2 linked regions of the Homo sapiens genome follow. The protein of the gene in region 1 purifies or fractionates together with the protein of each later gene. This does not show direct contact. Each region holds a gene or a part of one and is shown in the gene's direction. Other genes may lie near its edges. The genes, in order: PPP1R12A and MPRIP.

Region 1 (11,761 bases):
TTTCCCAATTGTCCTTTGAGTATTTCTGTTTGTTTTTTAAAATCAGGGGTCCACTTGGATTGTACATTGTGTTTAGTTGCCTTTGAACTTCTTATTTTGTTGCTCGTTTGACATTATGTGCATGAGTTTAAGGACTGATTGGTTTTTAAATCCTCACAGCATTTCTGTTGTGTTGTCAGTCTTGCCAATATTTGGATTTGGCTTTAGGTGGTCAAAATATAGATCTTTTTGAAATCATAAACTGCAGAATAAAAAAAAAAATCCCTGCTGTTAGTAATAATCCTTCTCTCAAACTTCCCAAGGAAGGCAGTAATGTAAATTATTAGTGGTAGAAACGTGTTGGTTTCATTGGTACATAGTTTGAATATTGAGAAACTATGAATGACTTATCTTACCTTATATATTCCAAAACTGAGGGCTTCTTGAATTCAGTTAGAACTCATGTTCATATGATAATAATTATGTATGCTTCAGTTAAGAAATTCTCTAAAAGCAGTTTGTCTGCAAAATTTTGAAGACTGTTAATCATCCTATAACTAGCGTCACTATAAACTGCTTTAATTAAAGTTTATTTTACTTCTAAGACCCCCATGTACTTCTTCAGTGAATACTAAATTCATTCCTGCATCTTTTGATCTGTTTAGACTATAATGTTATCAGAAATTCCATCTCCCTGGAATACCTAGGCAAGAAACTGGCTATCTTTTTTTTTTTTTTTCTTTTTGAGGCAGTCTTGCTCTGTCACCCAGGCTGGAGTGCAATGGCACGATCTTGGCTCATTGCAACATCTGCCTCCCGGGTTTAAGCGATTCTCCTGTCTCAGCCTACTGAGTAACAGGGATCACAGGCACCTCCACCACACCTGACTAATTATATTTTTAGTAGAGATGGGTTTTCACCATGTTAGGGTATTCTCGAACTCCTGACCTTGTGATCCGCCCACCCAAAGTACTGGGGTTACAGGCGTGAGCCACTGCACCCAGCACTGGCTCTCTATCTTTTGGGTATTTGGCTAAGTAATCCCTTTCCTACTACAGTCAAATGATTACGGTAAACTTCCTGTGTTCAATTTTCTTTTTCTTTTTCTCACATATAGCCAACATTTATGGCAATGTAGTTCTCAATTTATACCTAATGCCCTAACTGAAAAGAAATACTTTATAACCTCTGTTAGTATAGTGGGCCAGTAATCTCTTTGCTGTAAAAGTTCTTATTCAAAATCACTCTTGATTCTGTAATTAAGCTAATATAATAACATCTGCTTCTAAATTTGCATATTTAGAAACTATTTTATTCTCAGTTTCAAGCACCATAACTTACTTTGAAGATTATATTGTTTCTTTGTTCTTAAAGTTTTGTAACCAAATTTTATTCAAAACGATCATGTGTAAAAATTTTGAATTTTTTTTTTTTTTTTTTTTTTTTTTGAGACAGAGTTTCACTCTTGTCACCCAGGCTGGGGTGCAGTGGCGCAATCTCGGCTCACTGCAACCTCCACCTCCCAGATTCAAGTGATTCTCCTGCCTCAGCCTCCCGAGTAGCTGAATTACAGACACCTGCCACCACACCCAGCTAATTTTTGTATTTTTAGTAGAGACGGGGTTTCATCATGTTGGCTGGGTTGGTCTCAAACTCCTGACCTCAGGTGATCCACCCGTCTCGGCCTTGCAAAGTGCTAGGATTACAGGCATGAGCCACCGTGCCTGGCCTGAAATTTTTTTTTTAATGAAGAGGGGGAGTCCTTTTTTTTTTTTTTTTTTTTTTTTGAGATGGAGTCTTGCTCTGTTGCCCAGGCTGGAGTGCAGTAGCACGATCTCGGCTCACTGCAAGCTCCGCCTCCCAAGTTCACGCCATTCTCCTGCCTCAGCCTCCCAAGTAGCCGGGACTACAGGCATCCACCACCACACCTGGCTAATTTTTTGTATTTTTAGTAGAGACGGGGTTTCACCGTGTTAGCCAGGATGGTCTCGATCTCCTGACCTCGTGATCCACCCGCCTCAGCCTTCCAAGGTGCTGGGATTACAGGCGTGAGCCACCATGCCCAGCCGAAGAGGGAGTCTTCTTATCAATACTGTATGACTTTTAAAACCTGTTATTTTCAGTGATTCTTATACTCCTGTATCTAATTTAGCATATTAGTATTTTTTAAAATTTTTTCAAGTTTATCTGTAACTTTAGTGACCTAACATTAAATTTCCTTAAACAGGTTGTTAATTTCTAATTGCATCTTAAAAGGTTTTGCAATTATCTGTTTTTAGGTTCCCAGTCATGACTCCACTTCTAATATTTAGATAAAGTTATCAAGTTCTCCAGCTTCCTACCCCAGTACATAAACTATGTATGTGTGCACTTGTGTTCATGGCAAGACAGATCACAAAAATGGAAGCACACGAAACAGTTTTACATGCTTATTTTCTTTTAATAACTTGGGGTAACTATGGTGAAAGATAGATGTGTTTACTTTAATTCCTTAACCCTTCCGCTGAAATTAAAGAACTGTTTCTGTAGCAATATCAAGCTGATGATTTGTGGAGATGTTATCTATAAAACCATCAGTTTGATTTTGTGCTTAAAATTGTTAACTAACAAGTTTATATAAGCCTCTCTGGTCAAAATAAATTTTGTTGGGATCTCTAAAGCAGATTATCTATTCTTCTATATGGGTGTACATTCCAATAAAATGTAAATGGCATTTTCTTTACTTGATGGTAAAAATTCAGAATTTTTATGGAATTAAGTGTTCTGGTTAATTGAATTCAATGTAATAGCTAATAATTTAACAAAAGACTGCTATGTGCTGTGGGTATATAAAGTAGTCCAATCGAAACGTACAGATGTAGCATGATTTAAAAGGAGAAGAAATTATATTTGACTTAAGGTAGTAGAATCAGGACATTTTAGATAAATCTTAAAGTAGGTAGTACTCCACCTGAGAGAAGAAGGGCTTGTAAACCTTGTTGAAAGGGAGAGAAGAAAAACAATATGAGCAAGTGGGGATAATATGGAATACTTTCGCAGGAAAAATGAATTGTTCCATTTGATTGATTTATAGGGTGCATATATACAAAGTAAACAGGAAAAGTAGAGCTATATTGCAGGATGTCTTCAACTGTAGGATAACACTTTTATAATTTATTTGATAAGTAGTAGTCGTGGAAGATGTTTGAACAATGCCATGAGAGGATTATTCTTTATAGAATATTATTCTGACAGCAGTGTACAGATTTGAAGATGAGAGGCTTATTGAGAAAAGGTTTATTAGAAAGTCATTGAAGTTGCCCACAATGATAAGAATATGAACTAGAGAAGTGACTCTGGGCTTATAAAGGAGAGGAGATTTAGAGACTTGACCTCTAATTTATGGATGGAGGAAAATGACAGAGAAGGTCTAACATAATTGTGAAGTTTGAAACATAGGAGATTGAAGAGATATACTTAGTGCCATTAACAGAATTAGGGAACTGAAGAAGAGATGGTTTGGAAGTAAAGGTGTTTTATTTTAGACATACTGAGTTTCAAGTTTTCAGTTATAGTTCTAGATTGTCCACTCTAGAATAGTGTGGTAGAATTTTACCTAGAATAGACAGGTAAAATTAGGACTGGAAATTTAGGAGACTGGACTGGAGAATAACACATTTGAGAATAAGCTGACTACAATTAATATTTAGCCTGAGGAAGTAAAGACCCTCCTCCTAACCCCCCAGGAGAAGAAAGTAGAAAGAGAATATGAGAGATCCAAGAGCAGGCTCTGGAAGGGCTAGCACAAGGAAAGTTGTACACACACACACACACAAACACACACAGCCTGTATAAGGAACGTTACACACACACACACACACACACACACACACGCACACACAGAGTCAGTCAAGAAAAGGAATGGTCAGAGTAAAAAGAAAAAGAAGGTGAAGATAGTGTCCAGTAAAAAAAGCCAAAGAAGAGAGTTTAATGGAGGAGGAGGTATAGTTAAGTATTTCAGGAAGGGTTTATTTATATATCAAGTAAAATTAAAAGGTGCTTTTAGACATATAAAGCAGTACTTAAATCCAAGTTCATGTTGGGCAGAGTGGAGGTATATCAGCCATTACAGTGTAACAAATGCCCATTTCAAAATTGATAGATAGTACTGCCTCGTTTTTCTCAACTCTAAAATAACAGTAATAGTAGTATTTCATTGGGTAATTATAAGGTTGAAACAGGATAACCCATGTGAAGCACTTAGCTGAGGGTCACACACTAGTAAATATTTGTTAAATGTTAGCTTCATTTATAACAATAAATGTTAGCTTCATTTATAACAATAAATGTTATCTGACTGACTGACTCTGGCTGTTTTATAATGGGGGAAAAAACGTTTGTTTCCAGGTTTTTTGTTTGTTTTTTTGTTTCTGTTTTTTGAGGAGGTGGGAGACCTAATGTGGGTGTTGGCAAACTATGGCTGGTGGGCCAAACCTAGCCCATTACCTGTTTTTGTATAGCAAACTGGTTGGAGAAAAAAAATAAAAAAAAGTCATTGTCCCTAAAGTTTTATTGGTTACAGCCACACTCAATCATTTGTGTATTAATATTATCTGTGTTCCACAAAGCCTAGCATTTACAGTGTAGCCCTGTAAACTCACCAATCAATAAGCAGCTGTCTCAGTACCTATCATATTGCACAGAATATTAGAGTTCGCAAACTTTCTTGGTCATTGGAGCCCCTAGTGTTTGGTAGGATTTTTTCACAGTGCCACTGGCAAAAGGAATTGCCTGTTTGTCTCATTAAGTAGTTTGATGGAAATGTGATCAAAATGGCAGTTTGTGCAGTGTCTATGAGATGTCACTGTGCTTCTCTCAAAACTTTAAAATATTCTACAGAGCCCCCGTGATTTTGTTGTGACACTCTGGAGCACTTTGGTGCACATTTTAGGAACTGAGGAATGCTTAGACACTATTGATAGCAATTCATTACTGGAAGTACCAGAGGTATATCTTTATAACAGTTTTGTCCATGAAGTGGCCCTCAAGCATCATCATGGGGGCTTTAACAAGCCCTGTTAACCTGCTAATTATAGCAAATGTTGGCAATAGATATGAAAGAAATGATTTTTAAAAAATTATTAATACCCTATGCTTGTGGCAACTAGTTAGTTGCTGTATTCACCAATCTATATAGTTAACTGTGGTTGAGTATAGAATTTCTAGAAGTGAAGTTGATGAAGTGATCTAAAGATAACAGAGGTTGCATTTTTAGGGTTGTTGGAAAGCCCTTAAAATAGCATAAATATTTGTACATAAAATTAGTTTTTATTATAGTTGAAATAGTTAATGTTTGGTGGGGAAATCAGTAAATTTAAGGCTGTGATGTTAAAAAAAAAAGTATTATAATTGGAAAAATATCAGTTACTAGTTTTTGTTGATTATATTGGACACAAAATTTTTTAACCAGAGTATATACATGGATTAAAAACAAAATTCATGTGCAGTAGTTTGTTCAGTCACATGCTATATTATCTACTCTGTATGCCTTTTAATTGCTTTAGAAGTTTATTAGATTTTTTTCAGATTATCTCATGCTAAAATTAGAACTTGTTCCCAGTGACTTTTAAAGATTGGATCATTACCCAATTATTGGGGTTAATTATAAAATTATTTTCAAATGAAGAAAATATTTTTTGTTCATAACTTCCCTTTTCTGTTTTCATGCTTTCAATCTTTGTCTCTTTACCTGTCTTATTTTAATTGGCTTTAGTATGATTTCATTGCTCCTATCATGCCTGTGGTGGAATCAGTAGATCCTGCATCATGGAGGCAGGGCTTGCGCAAAACTGGCATTGTTCTTGTGCCCAGTAAGGGTGAAAAATCTATGGTGAGGCATTTCTATGTGCAAGAATTTATATTAGGTTACAACATAACAAGTTTAATATAAATTGGTTCCAAAGATGCATGGTTTTAAGTCCTTATGGTGTGCTCATTTCTGTTTTCTGTATTTGCATCATAATTTTTCTGTGTGATATAAAGTGTGTAGTGTGTTTTCTTAAGTCTAACCCCTAGGAAGGTAGTCTATTTCTTTAAAATTTTTAGATCTTTACATTTTTTACTAAGACATTAACCTATGTAGTAAAAGTGTTTTATCCTGAAACTGTAAACCATAATTTTAAATATATTATCTGTAAACTTATTGTTTCCAATTTAAGGACTGATCAGCTTTACAAATTCTTTTTTCTTTTCCTAAAAAATAAAATAAACACAGTTTCCAACCACAGCTACAAAAATTTCTCCCAAAGAAGAAGAGAGAAAAGATGAGTCTCCTGCAACTTGGAGGTTAGGACTTAGAAAGACGGGCAGCTATGGTGCACTTGCTGAAATCACAGCATCTAAAGAGGGTCAGAAAGAAAAAGATACTGCAGGTGTTACACGTTCAGCTTCAAGTCCCAGACTTTCCTCCTCTTTGGATAATAAAGAAAAGGTAATCTATTTCACAGTCTGGTTTCTATGAAAACTGTTATGATTTCTTTTCCAGGAACATCAAATCTGGTAGATTTTCTGCTAGTTATCTTTAGATCTAGGTATCAAGTTAATTAACCTTAATGAATTACATAAGACAAATGTAATTTATACAGAATTATAAATACTGGAAAGATCAGATGTATTTGCCTAAAACATAAATTATGGGACTATACTCCGTTAAAGGAATCTATTACCTTACTTGAGAATTTATAATAGAACTGTATTAAGGAGCAGGCTTATTTTGTTTATTATGATTCAAGAAACTTTCTGAAGTTTAAAAAACATAGGAACACATTTATTCTAGAATGTTAGTATACTCATAAGTTACATTTATTCAGTATCTGAAAAAAAATACCAGATTTTTCATCTACCATATTACAAGCAACTTTGTCTTAATGAGTAAATTTAATAACTATTTTGAGAGGTGGTATTAATACTGCATTATATAGGATGTACCACAGTTTATTCAATACTAGTATTTATTTCTACAGCATATTCAGTGCTTGAACTATTTTTTTTGCCCATACAGTTTTCTTTCTATACTTAGAAATGTTTCCTTATATCAGAAATTCAGATGAAATTTCTCATCAAGTAATTCTAATATTTTTGCTTTTTTATCAGTTTACTGTGCAGTTGGTTTCCAGGTATTTTATGCCAGCTTACTAGGAATGTATCAGAGTGTCATTGTCACTACACACTCTTAGCCATATTTGGATAAATATAATTTAAATAATATTTGTTTTGACTATTTTGATGTATTTGAGAGCATTGATTATCAAGGTTCTAAATAGCTTATATAATATAAATGCTTGAGACCTCTCAGTGAACAATATTTGAAAGTTTATTTCTCTGGAAGAAATAAAGATATTTCAGCTTATGACACAGTATTAATCTGTTAGAGAAGTTTTAGAAAAAGTCATTAAAATCTGGAGAAATTTTTTTCCTTTCTTAGTAAAATATTATCTGATTCCAGGCTAAAAGAGAAAGAAAACTAATTTGAACAGGCTGATTATTGATTGACATTAATTTTAGAGTTCAGCTAGGAATTGTTGAAATACTGTAAACTATGATAGCTATGTAATTATAATTATTGAATAACCTTTTCTTAATACTTTTAGCATTGCCTATAGTCAGTACCCAAATTAATTTTTACTTATTTTTTTCCCTGTTGTGTAGGAGAAAGATAGTAAAGGAACTAGGCTTGCATATGTTGCACCTACAATACCAAGACGACTAGCCAGTACATCTGACATTGAAGAGAAAGAAAACAGGTGAGTTTATTTTGATTTGCTTTATGCATTCACTATAAAATCTTTATTATCTAGCATTAGAGTTAATACATGAGCATTGTAATTATGTGCGGATATGTATTGTGGGAAGAGATGGAGGATATTCCTGAAGGAGAAAATACCAGGTACATAGTCCTGAGGAGGTGCAGGCTTGGTATGTTCATGAAATAATAGCAAAGAAGATGTGGCTGGAACAGAGTAAGGGGAAAGTGGGAGGAGATAAGGTCATGAACTAGTATGAGTTCTCTAAATATTTGGAACATTTAGGAAAGGGGAAAGAAGAAGGAAAGCCCTTACTTAATCATTTTAGTTTGTTTTAAATATTTTTGTTTAAATATTGTTTAAATATTTTAGTTTCTTCCTGTTTTTCAGCTTATAGAATTTTATTTTTTTAATTTAATTATTTTTATTTTTATTTTTATTTTTTTTGAGACAGAGTCTCGCTCTGTCACCCACGCTGGAGTGCAGTGGCGCAATCTCGGCTCACTGCAACCTCCACCTCTCAGGTTCAAGTAGTTCTCTGCCTCAGCCTCTCAAGTGGCTGGGATTACAGGCACCTGCCACCCTGCTCAGCTAATTTTTTTATTTTTAGTAGAGACAGGGTTTCACCATCTTGGCCAGGCTGGTCTTGAACTCTTGACCTTGTGATCCACCTGTCTCGGCCTCTCAAAGTGCTGGGTTACAGGTGTGAACCACTGCACCCGGCCAATAACTTTTTAATATACTTTTAATCATGTTATAATATCTAATTTTTTTATTTTTTTCCCCTAAGATCTCATAAGCAGTCTTCTATGTTAATATATATTTTTAATAAGCATTTTTTTTGTCGGCACATAACATACTATAAAGTAGATCTTCTGCGGTTAAAGTAAGCATCTCCCCTACTTTATATTTTGTGATCAAAAAGCATATTTCTATAAATATCTGAATTTTCCCCCATACTTAGGGGAAAAATTATACCTTAGGGTATATAATCTTAGTACTGAAATTACTTTATCTTCTTGATTAGTATTCCTAAGTGTCCTCCCAAAGGTTTTTACTAGTTTCAGCTTATACTAATATTTACTAGTGTACCGCTTTCTTAATCCTATTTTAAAATTATGTACCAGAATCTGAAGGGTGTTCTTTTAACAGAGATTCTTCAAGTTTGCGAACAAGTAGTTCATATACAAGGAGAAAATGGGAAGATGATCTTAAAAAAAATAGCTCAGTTAATGAAGGATCAACGTATCATAAAAGGTAATAATACTATTCTTAAGCGGTTTTTATGTATTCATTTATAAAAATATGAGGCAATTTGTTTGGAGCCCTCAGTTTAACATCATTTTAAACAAATATGTGTTTTTATTAAATACGAGTTTTTGTTGTTTAAAACTTACTCTAAACACAGGATATATATTTAAAGATAGGTGATAATTTGTTATGCCTATTATATAATTAAGCTTCAAATATTATGAAATGTTTTTTGGATTGTTACATATTTAAAAGGAACTCCTTTAGAAGGAACTCCTTGACTAGAACAACTTAAACAGGCCAGTGTCTTAATGGATCTAGTTGTCATTGTTGATCTGGAAAGATTTGGCTTGCCCTAGAACTCAGAGCTATGGAAATGCCTTCAGTTGGAATGTTGGTAGTATCATATTGAAGAGGAAAAAAAAGCCCTATAAACAATTTCTTTACTAAAAGCAACCAAAAAGAATAAGATGTGAACAAGTATCATGTAGGCATTGGTTACTTCCGAGGTATCTGACCCATTGCTGAAATAATTTCCTTCAAAAAAATGTCAACGTCTTGTTTTCCCTGGGTAATACAAAACCAAAGTGTGTTTTTCAGGCTCAGCCTGGCATGACCATATGGTGTGGAATAGTTTCAAAAATATGAAATATCAGATCATCTTTGTCTTGTTGAGAAAGTTGGGAGGAGGCACTAAAATGATACACTACCGAATTAAGTGAAATCTTCTAAACTCTAGCAAGTTGTAGATGCAACTCTTGGTGCTGGAGCTGGTGGTGTATTTAGGAACACAGTTTTTAAATTTTTTTTCTAGCCTTGTAATTTATATAATGTATAGACATTAACTATAGAATACACATACAAACACATCCTATATAGATATGACTCTTTTGTTTAGTTGCTCCTTTGGTAGAAGACAAGATGATTTGATTAGTTCTAGTGTTCCAAGCACCACATCAACACCAACAGTTACCTCTGCAGCTGGGCTTCAGAAAAGCCTGCTTTCCAGCACAAGCACTACTACAAAGATTACAACGGGTTCTTCCTCAGCAGGCACACAAAGCAGGTAAGTCACAGATACATTTTGTGCTCAGGTCTACTGTGTGCTTATGTATGTGCATGCGTTTTTGTTTAGAAGATTGTGGGGCTCTGGATTTTTTCATTTATCTTGTTAAATTTATTTGCAGACAAAAATTGGTTCCAAAATGAGGCAATTATGCATGTCTGGGGGAAATTTTAAGTTCCTGAACTATGAACTTTCCTTGAATTAGACTGCTTAAAATGTAAATTTCTCTCTTTGACAACTCTGGGTGAGCTTTTTGGTTCATAATTTAAGGATGTCTCACCTTGCGTTTTAAAAAAATCCATCCCTGTAGTCATGTGTTTTCAGCTGCTAGAAAGTGCTTTCATTGTTTAGCTGTTTTCCTTTTCTCTTTTTTGTGTTGCTGCTTATGATGCTATAGTACCTCAAATCGTTTGTGGGCTGAGGATAGTACTGAGAAAGAAAAGGACAGTGTTCCTACGGCAGTGACCATTCCTGTTGCTCCAACTGTTGTAAATGCTGCAGCTTCTACCACAACCCTGACTACAACTACTGCTGGCACTGTCTCCTCCACAACAGAGGTCAGGGAGAGACGCAGGTGTGTAAAGGTCATAACAGTACTGCTGATATATCTTGCCCAGTGATGAAAGTTGTTTTTTGTTTTAAAAAAGATCTTGTGAGGTTGATGGCCATCTCTCCAGTAGACTAATAAATGAAATACCCTGTCAGCTCAGAACTATGTAAATTTATACAACTAGCAATTATTTATATTTAGGCTTTGCGACTCACCTCTGACAGAATTAATGTTTTTTTGTTTAAAGTCAGTGAGCAAGACAGTTGTTTTCTTAAACATTTTAGTTTCTAAGGTGGTTTATTTCAAAAAAAATTTTTTGATGAAGAACTGAAAACACCACACACTTAGGGAAAATTAGATGCAACATGACAAAAACAGGTTTTATCATTCTTCTCATTGTTTCCTCCCATTATTAAGAAATTTGAAGGATGTTGAACTGTTTTGTTCCTGTTGATTTGGAGAATTTCTTCTCTTGGTAAGGAAAGACTTCTGTGCATAAGTGTAAGCCAAATAATTTTGAGTATGTTGAATACATTCATTTAATTTTATCTCTGATACATAGAAAGCACTTATTCAGATTTTTTCAAAGAGTCTGAATTTATTTTGTGTGCTTAAATATTTTTAAAAGATTGCTCACTTCTTTCTGTTGCTGCCTACTGGCATGGAATCATAGATGTACAAAGGAGCTTACTAACTATCTTTTGGGATTTCCTTGCTTTACCGAAGGAAACTGAGACCCAGAGATAATATGTGACTATTTTACTTTTGTATGCTTTATTGGTGTGAGGGCTGAGGCTAGCCCCAAGATTGCAGGAAAAGTAGTTCAGTTCTTTCTGCTATATTATGCATAGTCCCTAGCTTTTTTTTTCCTCTTGAAAAAAAATAAAACCTTAGGAAACCAAATGTGAGCTTTATTTTTATATTTTATTCTTGCAAAATTAAATGAACTATGTAACTAATTTTTTTTTTTACTAAAATACTGACCAGATTAACTTTGTTTTATTTCTGTCACGTAGTACTTACATACAGAGTTCTTTTTCTCTGTTGCCTACTGAAGTGCCTGGCCTGTAGTAGTAATGGCCTCACAGTAATATTTGTGTTTGAATATATGAAAAGTAATAAGTTAGTGTTAAC
Region 2 (12,649 bases), on another chromosome or scaffold:
ATTTAAAAAGTACACAAACATTGTTCATGAATGGCTAGATACGCACATACGCATACATATGCAGCCCTGTGTCCCTGTGTGTATGCACATGTACATTATATATATATACATATATATATATATATATATATATATATATATAATTTTTTAAGATGAAGTCTTGCTCTGTCACCCAGGCTGGAGTGCAGTGGCGCCATCTCAGCTCACTGCAACCTCTACCTCCCCGGTTCAAGAGATTGTCCTACCTCAGCCCCCCGAGTAGCTGGGATTATAGGCGCACACCGCCATGCCTGGCTAATTTTTTTGTATCTTTAGTAGAGATGGGGTTTCACCATGTTGGCCAGGCTGGTCTCGAACTCCTAACCTCAGGTGATCCGCCCACCCTGGCCTCCCAAAGTGCTGGGATTACAGGCATGAGCCACCGTGCCCAGCCTACATGTGCATATATACACATTCATGTAGACATACACCTTGTTATTAGAGTTTTTACAAATACGGTCTCATTCAGCAAAAACTATGTGAGGCCATACATACTTTCCCCTTAATATGTTGTGAATACATTTCTATACTAATAAATATCTACACCCTGATTTTTTGAATAATTTTTGTTTAGTGATTTTAGATTTACAGCAAAGTTCCACAAAGTTCCCATACTCTTCCCCCACCTTCCCCTAATGTGAACATCTTACATAATCATGCTACATTTGTCAAAACTAAAAAGTTAACATTAGTAAAACATTATTAGCTGGACGACAGACTCTATTAGGATTTCGCCAGTTTCCCACTAATGCCCTTTTTCTGTTCCATGATCTCATCCGGCATCCCACATGGCATTCAGTCTCCGTCATCTCCTGAGGCTCCTCTGGTCCCTAACAGTTCTGAGTCTTTTCTTGTTTTTCACGACCTTGACACATTCGAAGAGTGCTGCTCACGTATTTTGTAGAATGCCCCTCATCTGAGTTTGTCTGATGTTTTTCTCATGAGACTGAGGTTATTAGTTTTTGGGTAAAAGATCACAGAGGTGAGGTGCCCCTGTCATTGTATCAGGGGGTACCCAGTAGCCACAAGACTTACCACCAGCGATGTTGAGGGAGCATCTGCTGAGTTTCTTCACTGTAAAAGGACTGTTTTTCTTCTTTCCATAGTCCATTAGAGGATGAGGATGAAGTTCTGCCTCTTGGAAGCGGTGGTTATCTATGTGTATTATTAGAATCTGATTTTACATGACAGAACAATGTTTCATTTTATGGATCTGCCCTCATTTATTTAGCCAGTACCCTAATGTCACACACTTCCATGACTTTCAGCTTTTCTTTTACAAACAAAGCTGCAAACCACAGCAGGAGCTCAACTTCAAATTCAAAAAAAATTGTGGTTTGTTTTTTTTTCTTTTGAGATAGGGTCTTGCTCTGTCATCCAGGCTGGAGTTTTAGTGATGTGATCACAGCTCACTATAGCCTTGAAATCCTAGGTTCAAGCAACCCTCCTGTCTTGGCCTCCCAAGTAGTTAGAATTATGGGCATGAGCCACCATGCCTGGCTAATTTTTAAAAAATGTTTTTGTAGAGATGGGGTATTGCTATGTTGCTCAGGCTGGTCTGGAACTCCTGGCCTCAAGCAATCCTCCTGCCTCAGTCTCCCAAAGTACTAGTATTACAGATGTAAGCCACCACATCTGGCCTCAACAAATAGTTTTCAAACAACTTCTCTGTAACAGACACTGCACACTCTAGTGAACAATGTTTGTATACCTCTTCAATGTTCTTTTTTCTTCTTAGAATAAATTCACAGGTTGGGATTACTAGGGCAAAAGGTAAGCACATTGTTAAGGCTCTTGATAAGTATCACTAAACAAAGCTCCAGGAAACTTGTACTAATCTGCTCTTTGGATTGACAATTTTATCTTTTTCAGCCTTTTTTTTCTTATTACAAAAATAATTTCTGTTTTTAGGAGATAACTGGAAATCACTCACTGGGCATTTAATGATATTAAAGAATTATTGTTTTTTTAGGTATGATAATGGTATTGTGGCTACTTTTTGAAAATAGTTCTTATCTTTTACAGACACACACAGTAGATGAGGGAGTATGGTTGAAACAAGACTTGTCCTGAGTTGATATGGAAGCTGGGTAATGGATACATCCACCTTCATTATATGATTTTCTCTATATTAGTAAGAAAACAAAAGCTTTTATTAAAAATTTTAAACATGATATAAATCTCTAGCTTAAGTGTGAGTCCCCATTCTTTCACCTCCCAGGGTTAACTGCAATGAACGGTTAGGTGTATGTGCCCCTGACCTTCTCCATGTAAACACTAACTGTGAATATTGCTAACACACACACTCTTAAAACAAGGATGAGCTACTACAATGCACACCATTTCTCCAACAGCTTTTCACTTCACCATATTTTGAGATGGATGGCCACGTCAACACTATCTCAGTCTTTAACAACTAGCCCCATGGTACTCCCCTGTATCAAAGAGCCATAATTTATTCATCCGATCCTCTAATGATAGACAATTGGAGTATCTCCAATTTTTGCTATTAAGAACAATGATGGAATGAACATCCTTGTACATAATATCTGTGTACCTGTGTGAGCAATTTTACAACCTATCTTTCTAGAAGTGGAATCACTATGTCAAAGTGGTCACAGACTTAAAATTTAAATAACATGTCCAACTTGCCCTTCTGGTGGACTTTCTGTGTCAAGTGCACTACATTCTCTCCTAGTGCACATCTGGAGACTATTGTCATTTGGTGCCTGCTGTAGAAAAGCCTCATGGCGTCACAGCTGGAAAGGGCCTCCGAGATCTTGTGGTCTTGCTTCCAGGGAAGGGTGGGGCCCAGCCCCCGATGCTGTCAGGGCCACGTGCAGCTCCCTGGGCTGGAGGTTGTGTAGAGCAGTGCTCACGAAGATACTGCCCATGTCTGAATCCCAGGCTTACCATTTACTGTTGTATGACCTTGAATACTTGCCTTGTCCGTGCCTCAGTTTTCTCATCTGTAAGCTGAGGATAATACTAATTCTGGGGTGGCAACTGGAAAGGGGTTAGGAGATTTTTCTTGAAGCTACATTAACAAAGTATATATTTATTTGGGGTGGCTTTCAGGGGATTGATGGATGATGGGGGGTGGGCACTAAGGACTCCCATCAGACACCACCAGCGCTGCCAGAGCTAATTTCAAATGATGACAGCTGGACTTAGTGAGATTCGACGTGACGAATGCCCAGCACACGGCACACAGCCTGGCACACTGTCAGTGCTCGATGGTTGTGAATTCTTGAATGCTGACAGGTGCTGTCTGGGACAGGGAGACCAACATTTCAGAGAGACTGTCCAGGAGAGGGAGGCCCGAGCAACAGGAAAAGAGGGGACCCAAGAAACAGCCTAATCCAGCCCGCCACTTACTACTTAAATAAAGTTTGATTGTAACACAGCTGCGCCCCTTCATTATGTAATGTCTATGGATGCTTGCACTTGACAATATCAAAGCTGAGTAGTTTCGACAGAGACCATATGGCCTGACAAGGCTAAAATATTTAGTATCTGGCCCTTTACAGAAAAAATCTGCCAACCCCTGGCATAGGGGTTATAGGCATACTAATACATGCTGATAGTTCTTGAGCTCACACCGTGTTTCAGGGACTGTTCTAAGCACGTCACATATATAAATTTCTTTAGTCCTCACAATACTCGTATGACATGGCTACTATTTATGGTAGCTAGTCTCAATGGTGGCCCCAGTGAACCACGTCTCCTGGGGCTGACGCCTCTGTGGGCCCCCCACCTCGAGTCTGGGACATCCTGTGCCGTGTGCTGACTAATGGCATGCGGTCGAGTGCCAGGCCTGGCATTAAGGAGGATGGGTACTTCTGCTTCTTTGCTCTGGGGAACACTGAGGTGCTGCACGCAGAGCAGAAGGGGAAGCCATGGGGAAAGGAGAGGCTCTGAGGCTGCAAGGAAAGGACGAAGGTCCAGCCAGCCCTGTCTCAGTCCAGCCTCCAGTGACCTCACCCAGCTACCATGCAGCCACACTTACAGCAAGCAAGACCAGCAGGACTGCCGGGCAGAGCCCAGTCCACTCTCAGAACCAGAGAGACAAGAAAATAGTGCTCAAGCCACTCTGCTTTGTGGGGTGGGGTGGTTCTGCAGCAATAGCTGGCTGAGACACACCACACCAGAGCCTTCGCCTTTCCACCCTCCTTTATCCAGTGGTTCCAACTCCTGTGTGGTTATGAGAATCCTCCAAGTAGCCTTTACAGACACCAATTAAATCAGAATATCTGGAAATGGACCAGAATAGGAATCCTTTTTTTTTTTTTTTTCTGAGACAGAGTCTAGCTCTGTCACTCAGGCTGTAGTAGCACTGTGGCACAATCTCGGCTTACTGCAACCTCTGTCTCCCAGGTTCAAGCCACCCTAGTAGCTGGGATTACTGGCCTGCACCATGATGCCTAGCTAATTTTTGTATTTTTAGTAGAGATGAGTTTTGCCATGTTGGCCAAGCTGGTCTCGAACTCCTGGCCTCAAGTGATCCACCTGCCTCGGCCTCCCAAAGTGCTGGGATTACAGGCCTGAGCCACCGCGCCCAGCCTCCAGAGTAGGAATTTTTTTAATCCTCCAGGATTTGAGAACCACAGCTCCACCCACTATTTCCAAAACTTGCCTAGCAGAAATATTTTAAAAACAGATTCTTCGGCTGGGCACAGTGACTCATATCTGTAATCCCAGCACTTTGGAAGGCTGAAGCAGGAGGATCTCTTGAGCCCAGGAGTTCGAGACCAGCCTGGGCAACATAGTGAGACCCTGTCTCTACAGGAAAATTAGCAAGCAAGGTGGCACACTCCTGTAGTCCCAGCTACTTGGGAAGCTGAGGTAGGAGGATCACTTGGGCCTGGGAGGTCAAAGCTGCAGTGAGCCCAGATCACACCACTGCACTCCTGGGCGACAGAGTAAGACCCTGTCTCAATAGCAATGACAAAATAGATTCGTGCACTCCAACAGATACACAATTCCATGGGAGGCCCTGGAAACCTGTAGCATTCACACATTCCTCCAGATGAATTTTATTATCAATGATTAGCAGAAAAAGGGCGAGATGAGAGCCCAGCTCTCAGGTGTGGAGAACTGCTTGGCAGTTTCCCATCAGGTTAAACATTCACTTCCCAAAACTTAGCCATCCCTAGTCTTGGGTATTCCCAATAGAAATAAGTGCTTGGCCGGGCGCGGTGGCTCATGCCTGTAATCCCAGCACTTTGGGAGGCCGAGGCAGGCAGATCACGAGGTCAGGAGATCGAGACCATCCTCACACAGTGAAACCCCGTCTCTACTAAAAAAATACAAAAAAAATTAGCCGGGCGTGATGGCGAGTGCCTGTAGTCCCAGCTACTCAGAAGGCTGAGGCAGGAGAATGGCCTGAACCCAGGAGGCGGAGCTTGCAGTGAGCCAAGATCGTGCCACTGCACTCCAGCCTGGGCGAAAGAGCGAGACTCCATCTCAAACAAAAAAAAAAAAAAAAAAGAAAGAAGTGCTTATGTCCACCAAAGACAAGCACGAAGATACTCGTAGCATTATTCATAATGGCCCCAAACTGGAAACATCCTGAATGTCTATCCACGGGAACATGGACAGATAAATTGTAGTATTTCCACACAAGGGACTACCAGGCAGCAATGAAAAAGAATGAAGTACTGATATATACAGTAGCCGTGTGGATTGAATTTCACAGGCATACTGTTGAATGAGAAGAGCCAGGCATAGCTCGCAGCGGATTCCACTCATCTATGGTGATGGAGATCAAAATAGTGGTTACCTCTGGGTATCTGTGTGTAAATTCTGCTCCCTAACAGGACACAGGGAAAACTTCCCAGGATGGCAGTCAGAGCCACAAATCAAGACTTACCTGCATTTGGGGCTCACCTGAGCGGCCTTTTCTTGCTTGCTTGCTTATTTGCTTTTTTGAGATAAACAATATACATTGAGGTGTACACAATGCAGTGAAAAAAGCATACAGCCCAGTGAATCTTTACATGTTTACACTGAGTATTGAACTTCATGCAAAGTGCTGTTCTAGGCCCCTGGAAAGGGAAGCCAAGGTTATGAGACACAGACTGTGTCGGTATGGATTTCATAATCTGGTGGAGGAGATATTACAATACAAGGTGGAACGATGACTTTTCATCCATTCACCCATGGGGTGTTTTTCTTGTTTGTTTTGTTTTTTGAGACAGAGTCTCACTCTGTCGCCCAGGCTGGAGTGCAGTGGCACGATCTCGGCTCACTGCAAGCTCCGCCTCCCGGGTTCATGCCATTATCCTGCCTCAGCCTCCCTAGTAGCTGGGACTACAGGCGCCTGCCACCAAGCCTGGCTAATTTTTTGTATATTTAGTAGAGACAGGGTTTCACTGTGTTAGCCAGGATGGTCTCGAACTCCTGATCTCATGATCCGCCCGCCTCGGCCTCCCAAAGTGCTGGGACTACAGGTGTGAGCCACTGCACCCCCATGGGGTGTTTTTGAGCCCCTGCTCTATGCCAGGCACTGAACTAGACAGGGGAAATGGAGTAGCAACCAAGACCCCACTCTACCGTGAGGGTTTTGGAGAGGAGCGCAACTAATTGATTCTACCTCCTAAACATTTTCCAAATTCATTCCCTTGCCTCCCACTGACCCTATCCTAGTCAGGCTGCTACCCTCTCTCCTCTGCAGCTCTCTCAGTCCTTGCCCCTGATTCATTCTCCAGATCAGCAGCCCTTACCTAAGTGCTCAGCCGAAAAAAATTCAAAATTGATGACTGCCCCTGGCCCAGGCAGCTCCGGTGCTGGCCTGTGTGGGCTCAAATCTTCACTTGTAGGATCTATAATTGTGACCACAGGCAAGTTCCTGATATGTCCTGAGCCTCGTGTGTGTCTTCTATAAAATGGAGATGAAATAGTATTAACAACAAAAACCATACCTGTCTCCCTGAAGAGGCTAGGCTTGCACCATCCACTACTCCTCCCAGTGCCTCTCAATGCTGGTCACTCCTGCCTCTCTGAACTACCCAGTGATAGAAAGCTGCTTCTGTTCATGAACACACCCTTTGGTTTCAAGGCCTGAGACTCTATAATTGGTGCCCCAGTTTGACGTGTCTTTCCCTTCACCTTCTCTGGCTGGGTCTTACTCAGCTCCAGACTCGGCCTAGGCATTGCCTCCTCCAGGAGCCTTCCCTGAAGCTGCCTACGGGGCTGGGTGCCCCTGTGTGGGCCCCCACAACACCCCGGATTGAACTTCTCTGTCTCCTGTTTCTGTTTGTCTCCACTTGCTTGAGTGTGGGCTCCTGCCGGGCAGGCTGCCTCTGAGTTGCTGAATGAAACTCTTCTTTGCGCCCCTACTGTGGACCCCTCCAGTCCAGTGCAGGTGCTGGATGTGCCTACTGACCTGAGCAGAACATGCTGAGCACTTTAAGGGAGGTGGCCTTGAGGAATGGGCAGGACATCAAGAAAGAAAATATATATATATATATATATATATATGTATGTATATATATATTTTTAAACAAGTTGTACATGCAGACAATACTAAATTCAGCAGAAACAAAAGGGATTGCAATGAAAATTAAAAGTAGGTCACCTCTCAACCACCCAGCTCCCCTCCCCAGTGGCCACCTCTTCTATCAGTTTCTGAGTATTCTCTGCAGGGCAGAATTGTCAGTCTTCCGTCCCTTTTTTATTTTGCAAAAATTTAAAGCAACAGAAAAGTTGCAAGAATAGTACAATAAGGCCGGGCGCGGTGGCTCACGCCTGTAATCCCAGCACTTTGGGAGGCCGAGGCGGGCGGATCACGAGGTCAGGAGATCGAGACCATCCCGGCTAAAACGGTGAAACCCCGTCTCTACTAAAAATACAAAAAATTAGCCGGGCGTAGTGGCGGGCGCCTGTAGTCCCAGCTACTCGGGAGGCTGAGGCAGGAGAATGGTGTGAACCCGGGAGGCGGAGCTTGCAGTGAGCCGAGATCCCGCCACTGCACTCCAGCCTGGGCGACAGAGCGAGACTCCGTCTCAAAAAAAAAAAAAAAAAAAAAAAAAAAAAAGAATAGTACAATAAACACCTTTTGCCTAGATTCACCAATTAACATTATGCTACTTAACAAGCATTATATCATTTAATGTTCACATTAATTAATTAATGCCAATTTTGTACATGAGGTCACTGAGGCACCAGGCAGGTTAAGGGACTTGCCCGAGGCCACAGAGCTCCTGCCTGGTGGAGCTGGGCTTTCCCCCTTAGGCTGCCAAAGGACTTTGATCTGCCTTCCCACAGCTCCCTTTTGAGGAAAAGCATTTTCTTACACTAAGTTGAAATCCACCTCCCTGGGATATTTACCAGATGATCCGTGGAAAAGTACACAGCTCTGGAAGCATTTGCTACTTCTCCTCCTAAAACCTCCTCCATTCCCTGAGCGACAGCTGCTGTGGCTGCCACTACCACATGCTCCAATGTCACCTCCTCCGTGAAGGCTGGGTTAGCTCACCCCCCTGTTTAAAGACTCACCATGACTCCCAGCTGCCAGTGGGATGACATGTGCACGCCTGGGCTTGGAATACAAGGCCTGGGTGATAGAGCCCTCTTCCAATCCCTCTTGCTCCTTCTTCCCCTATCTCCACTTCCAGCCACACTCAACCCTCTCACTGTCCACTTAAACTTCCCCTCCTCCTTGAAGCCACCCGAATTTTTCTAAAGAGCGCATTTCTCCCCTCTCTGGGCTCCTGCAACCTTCTGCCTGAGCCTTTGACAGCCTTTTCCAGGTTGTCTTTTGGCCAGGAGGCTGGACAATGGAGGACGGGAGTGACAGCTCGGCCCCTTCCTAGCAGAGTGATCCTACACAAATTACTCCAGGTGTCTGACCCTTCATTTCCTCAAGCACATCATGGGGGAAAGAATGCCTAGCTCAGCACCTGGCAGAGAGTCAGCCTTCGCTCATCTCCCCTAATGGAGCTGACAGCTCTTCAAGTCCGCTGACATCTTCTCTTAGTCATCCCTTGAAATACTACCCGCTGTTACTTCTCTGCTCCTCAGTCTCCTCCTATGTAAAATGGGGATGAGAAAGGAGAGGTTGCGAACCTTTAATGAGCGAGCCCTTGGAGTATCCAGCCCTTCCCGACGCTAACTGACTCCTACGAGGGGGCCTGGTACACAGTAGGTGCTAAACTAATCCTCTCCGAGCTGGGCTTGGGGAAGATGCCTCCGTTGGGTGTACAGCGTGGGCGCGGGAAGGCGAGCCTGGGAGCGAGGGGGTTGCAGAGAGGCAGCCTGAGGTCGGCTCCGCCTTCCCCCGCATCCCCCGCCCGGGCCCTGCAGCTGTCAGCCCGGCCGGCCTCGGCGCCAGTCCACCAAACCTGAACGTCCCATGCCGGCGCCCCCACCTTCCCGGCCTGCACAACTTACCTTGCGCTCGGCGGCCCTCGGTCCCGCCCCCGACTGCCATTGGCCCAGAGGTTCCTTTGTTAGCGAGAGCGCGCCAACCCCATTGGCCGGTGGGGCTGCCGATCGCGTCGGGCGCGGCCCCGCCCCGTACGCCCCGGCACCTCCCCGCGCCCGGCCGCCCGCCCGCCCGCCCGCCCGCCCGCCCCCGTAGTGCGTGAGGCGCTCCGGTCCCATTTGCAGCGGCCGCGGGGCGCCGAGGGCAGCTGCGGCGGCGCGGACGAGCCGGGACGGCGGCGACCGGAGCCTGAGAGGCGGGCCGCAGCGGGAAGCAGCGGGCCCGAGGCCGCGTCCATGGGCCCGCGGCGGCCGGGCGGCGGCGGTGCGGGCGGGAGCTGGGCGTCGCGCGCGCTGTGAGGCCCGGGCGGCTCAGGAGCCTCGGCGCGTGCAGCGAACCGCCCGCCGGGAAGGAGGCCGGGCCGGGCCTGCGGCGGGGCCGGCGAGGGATGCGGCGCGGCCGCGCTGAGCCCCTAGCCCGCCGGGAGCGCCAGGCCGGCCAGGCCTGCGCCGCCGCCGCCGCCGCCGTCGCCGCCGCGCCGACCATGTCGGCAGCCAAGGAGAACCCGTGCAGGAAATTCCAGGCCAACATCTTCAACAAGAGCAAGTGTCAGAACTGCTTCAAGCCCCGCGAGTCGCATCTGCTCAACGACGAGGACCTGACGCAGGTGAGCGACTGGGGCCGGCCCGGACACCTCCGTTCTGGGAGCCGCGGGTCGGCGGCCGGGGCGCCGCCAAGGGCTGCAGGGAAAATAAAAATGGAGCAGGGAAATGCGCGAGTCCTGGGGCATGGGGACGGGGACGGGAAGTGCATTGACAGAGCTGGGACAAAGGGAAAATCCTCGAGTATGCCGAAAAATAACATCCTTTCCCGTTCCCATTGCCCGGCTGTGTGATTCATGCTTTTTGGGTGACTCAAAAGTGCCTGGTTTCGCTTAGTAGGAACAAAGCGCTTAGGGATTGCATGCCGCTTGACGGGACCCCCCTGAGATTCTGGCTTGGGACTGGACTTGGATTTGTCCAGCCAGAGTGGCCCAGGGGTCGGATTGTTGGGGAGGACTGTGGGCTTCCGTCTAGTGGGACGCAGCCTGCCCCGATTCTGAATCATCGTCACTGTCAAGCACTGGAGAGAGGTGAAGGGGTGTCCAAATCTGGCGAGGAGGGTCTTGTTCTTGAACTTAGTTTGGCAGGCCGTAGTTTAGCGGGGAGCTGGGACCAGTTCCCTGGTCACTGGCCGAGGGGTGAGGAGACCTGTGGGTCCTCGGGAAAGTTGATTTCTGTCTCCCAGCCTTAACTGTCAAACAGGGCTTTGAACTAGTTATGACTCCCAAACGTGCATTAGAGTCATAGCCATTAAACACAGAGTTCTGGGGCCCCCGCCCTGGAGTGACTGGGGAGATGGGGAATTTGTATTGATGAAAGGCTCCAAGAGGCTTGGCTGCAGCCCCCATGGCCCTTGGGAACCCCTGCAGTGATTGCTGTTTGAACTCCTAGTGTTCCAGGATTCCGAGCCTTGTGTGCACCTCCTTGGGATGTGCCTCGGTACCCTCCCCACGGCCATCATCTCCATCCTCTTCAGAGCTTTCTCTCAGCCTCCTGAATGAAGCCAGGGGAAGTCCCTTCACATTCCAGTCCAGTGTGACCTAGTTGTAGCCACTCCTGTCGCAGAAGAACCCCTTAGACTGAAAACGAGTGAACGGGCCTGGTTGTTTTTAATGCCACTTCAGTGCACCCAGGGTTTGACTTGTTTACATGGCCGACTGGAGTAGGGTGGTGGGGCAGGGGTTACGGCCTGGGGCACGGGGCCTTTCTCTGAGGTCAGGTTTCCAACTGCCAGGAAAAGATTCCTTTCATCTAAACCCCAAAAGCTTAACGAAACACTCAAGGCTGCAAAGTCATAGATGGTTAAGATACCAAGGGTTTTAAGGACGGTCAGCTTGGGACGGATAGAACTCATTTACCTCGGAGGGTGTTTTGGAGTGTAAAGGAGAACTTGATTCCTTCTTCTCATCTGGATGCTTTTTTGGATGAAACAGTTTATGCGATGAGGAGTTGTTAGGAGACTTTGCTTCAGGTCTTGGCTGTCACTTCCAGCTGTGTGACCTTGAACAAATCCCTTTACTTCTGTATCTTTTAATTTCCTTATCTGTAAATTGGGAATCCTGGTCCCTGGCTTACCTCCTTCACTGAGCATTTGTGAAAAGCAAGAAATGATATTTTATGAAACTTTTTTCTCTTACAATTTAACAAACCAAAAAAACCTGCCACTTTAAGAAGTTTCTGGGCAAGGGTTGTTCTGAGAGAGGTTTGTAAGTTTCCTGGTTATTCTAAGCAACTGTCAAAATTGGTAAATTTACACCTCATAGGGGCTGTTTTCGAATTCTTAAGCTTAGATAAACTAGGATGGAATCTGCATGTTTGAGTCCAATCTGCTAAGATTTTTTTTAATCTGTTGATTATTAATTGGATTCACGGGGAGAGGCAAACTTAAAATACTGTACTCTCACTGTATTCAAAGTTGAATTGTGGGTTTTGAAACAGGCCTGAGACCTTCAGGGCACAACTGGAATGGTAGTTTCTGAAATAATGAGTGGGGTTATTTGTGCTGGGAGAGGTTAGCCCAGCATTCTACCTCCTGGGATCTTTCAGGAAGAAACTGCTCTTGAAAAGAGAGGAGGGAGACTCAGGGCTGTTGCCAACAGCCTTCTCTGCTGCTCTCTGCATCCGGCCCTCCCTCTCACTCTCATCCTTATGGCTCCATTAGAAAACCTCAACCAATCGGTTCCCATCAGTCTCCCCCAAGCCCCTGCTTCCTGCTGCCCCTCCCAGCCTGGAGCTTATTTTAGACCGTCAAAGCTGGAAGATACATCAGCCACCATCGAGGCCACTCCCTCCTTAAGAGGAGAGGATACTGGGCCCAGGGAGGTGGTGGGCAGCCTTGGCCGGCTTTTGCTCTGGAGATGTCATCTTCCCAGGAGCAGACATTTCTCTGAGCCTTTTGGTTTGAGGTTTATTTCCTCAGCTGTGGGTTTTGTTTGTTTGTTTTTCCCCTAGAGAGGCACAGAAACCTCTTGCAGGGACTGTATTATGGCATCAGACCTGGAAGGGACTTGGAGATCAGCTAATGTAACCACTTCCTCTTACCGGTGAGAAGATTGAAACCCAGAGAAGGGAAGTGACTTGC

What was found.
Region 2: the proteins of PPP1R12A (region 1) and MPRIP purify together in Homo sapiens (co-immunoprecipitation; 3 studies listed by BioGRID and IntAct, with this or other methods). This does not show direct contact.

Annotation. Positions count from the first base shown.
Region 1 is NC_000012.12:79,804,482-79,816,242, reverse strand, and holds part of PPP1R12A (protein phosphatase 1 regulatory subunit 12A), read left to right. Parts: intron 1-6,232; coding exon 6,233-6,448; intron 6,449-7,665; coding exon 7,666-7,760; intron 7,761-8,912; coding exon 8,913-9,017; intron 9,018-9,909; coding exon 9,910-10,077; intron 10,078-10,474; coding exon 10,475-10,651; intron 10,652-11,761. UniProt on the Homo sapiens protein: Key regulator of protein phosphatase 1C (PPP1C). Mediates binding to myosin. As part of the PPP1C complex, involved in dephosphorylation of PLK1. Capable of inhibiting HIF1AN-dependent suppression of HIF1A activity.
Region 2 is NC_000017.11:17,032,839-17,045,487, forward strand, and holds the start of MPRIP (myosin phosphatase Rho-interacting protein), read left to right. Parts: upstream 1-9,618; 5' UTR 9,619-9,914; coding exon of another isoform or gene 9,915-10,010; coding exon 10,011-10,133; intron 10,134-12,649. UniProt on the Homo sapiens protein: Targets myosin phosphatase to the actin cytoskeleton. Required for the regulation of the actin cytoskeleton by RhoA and ROCK1.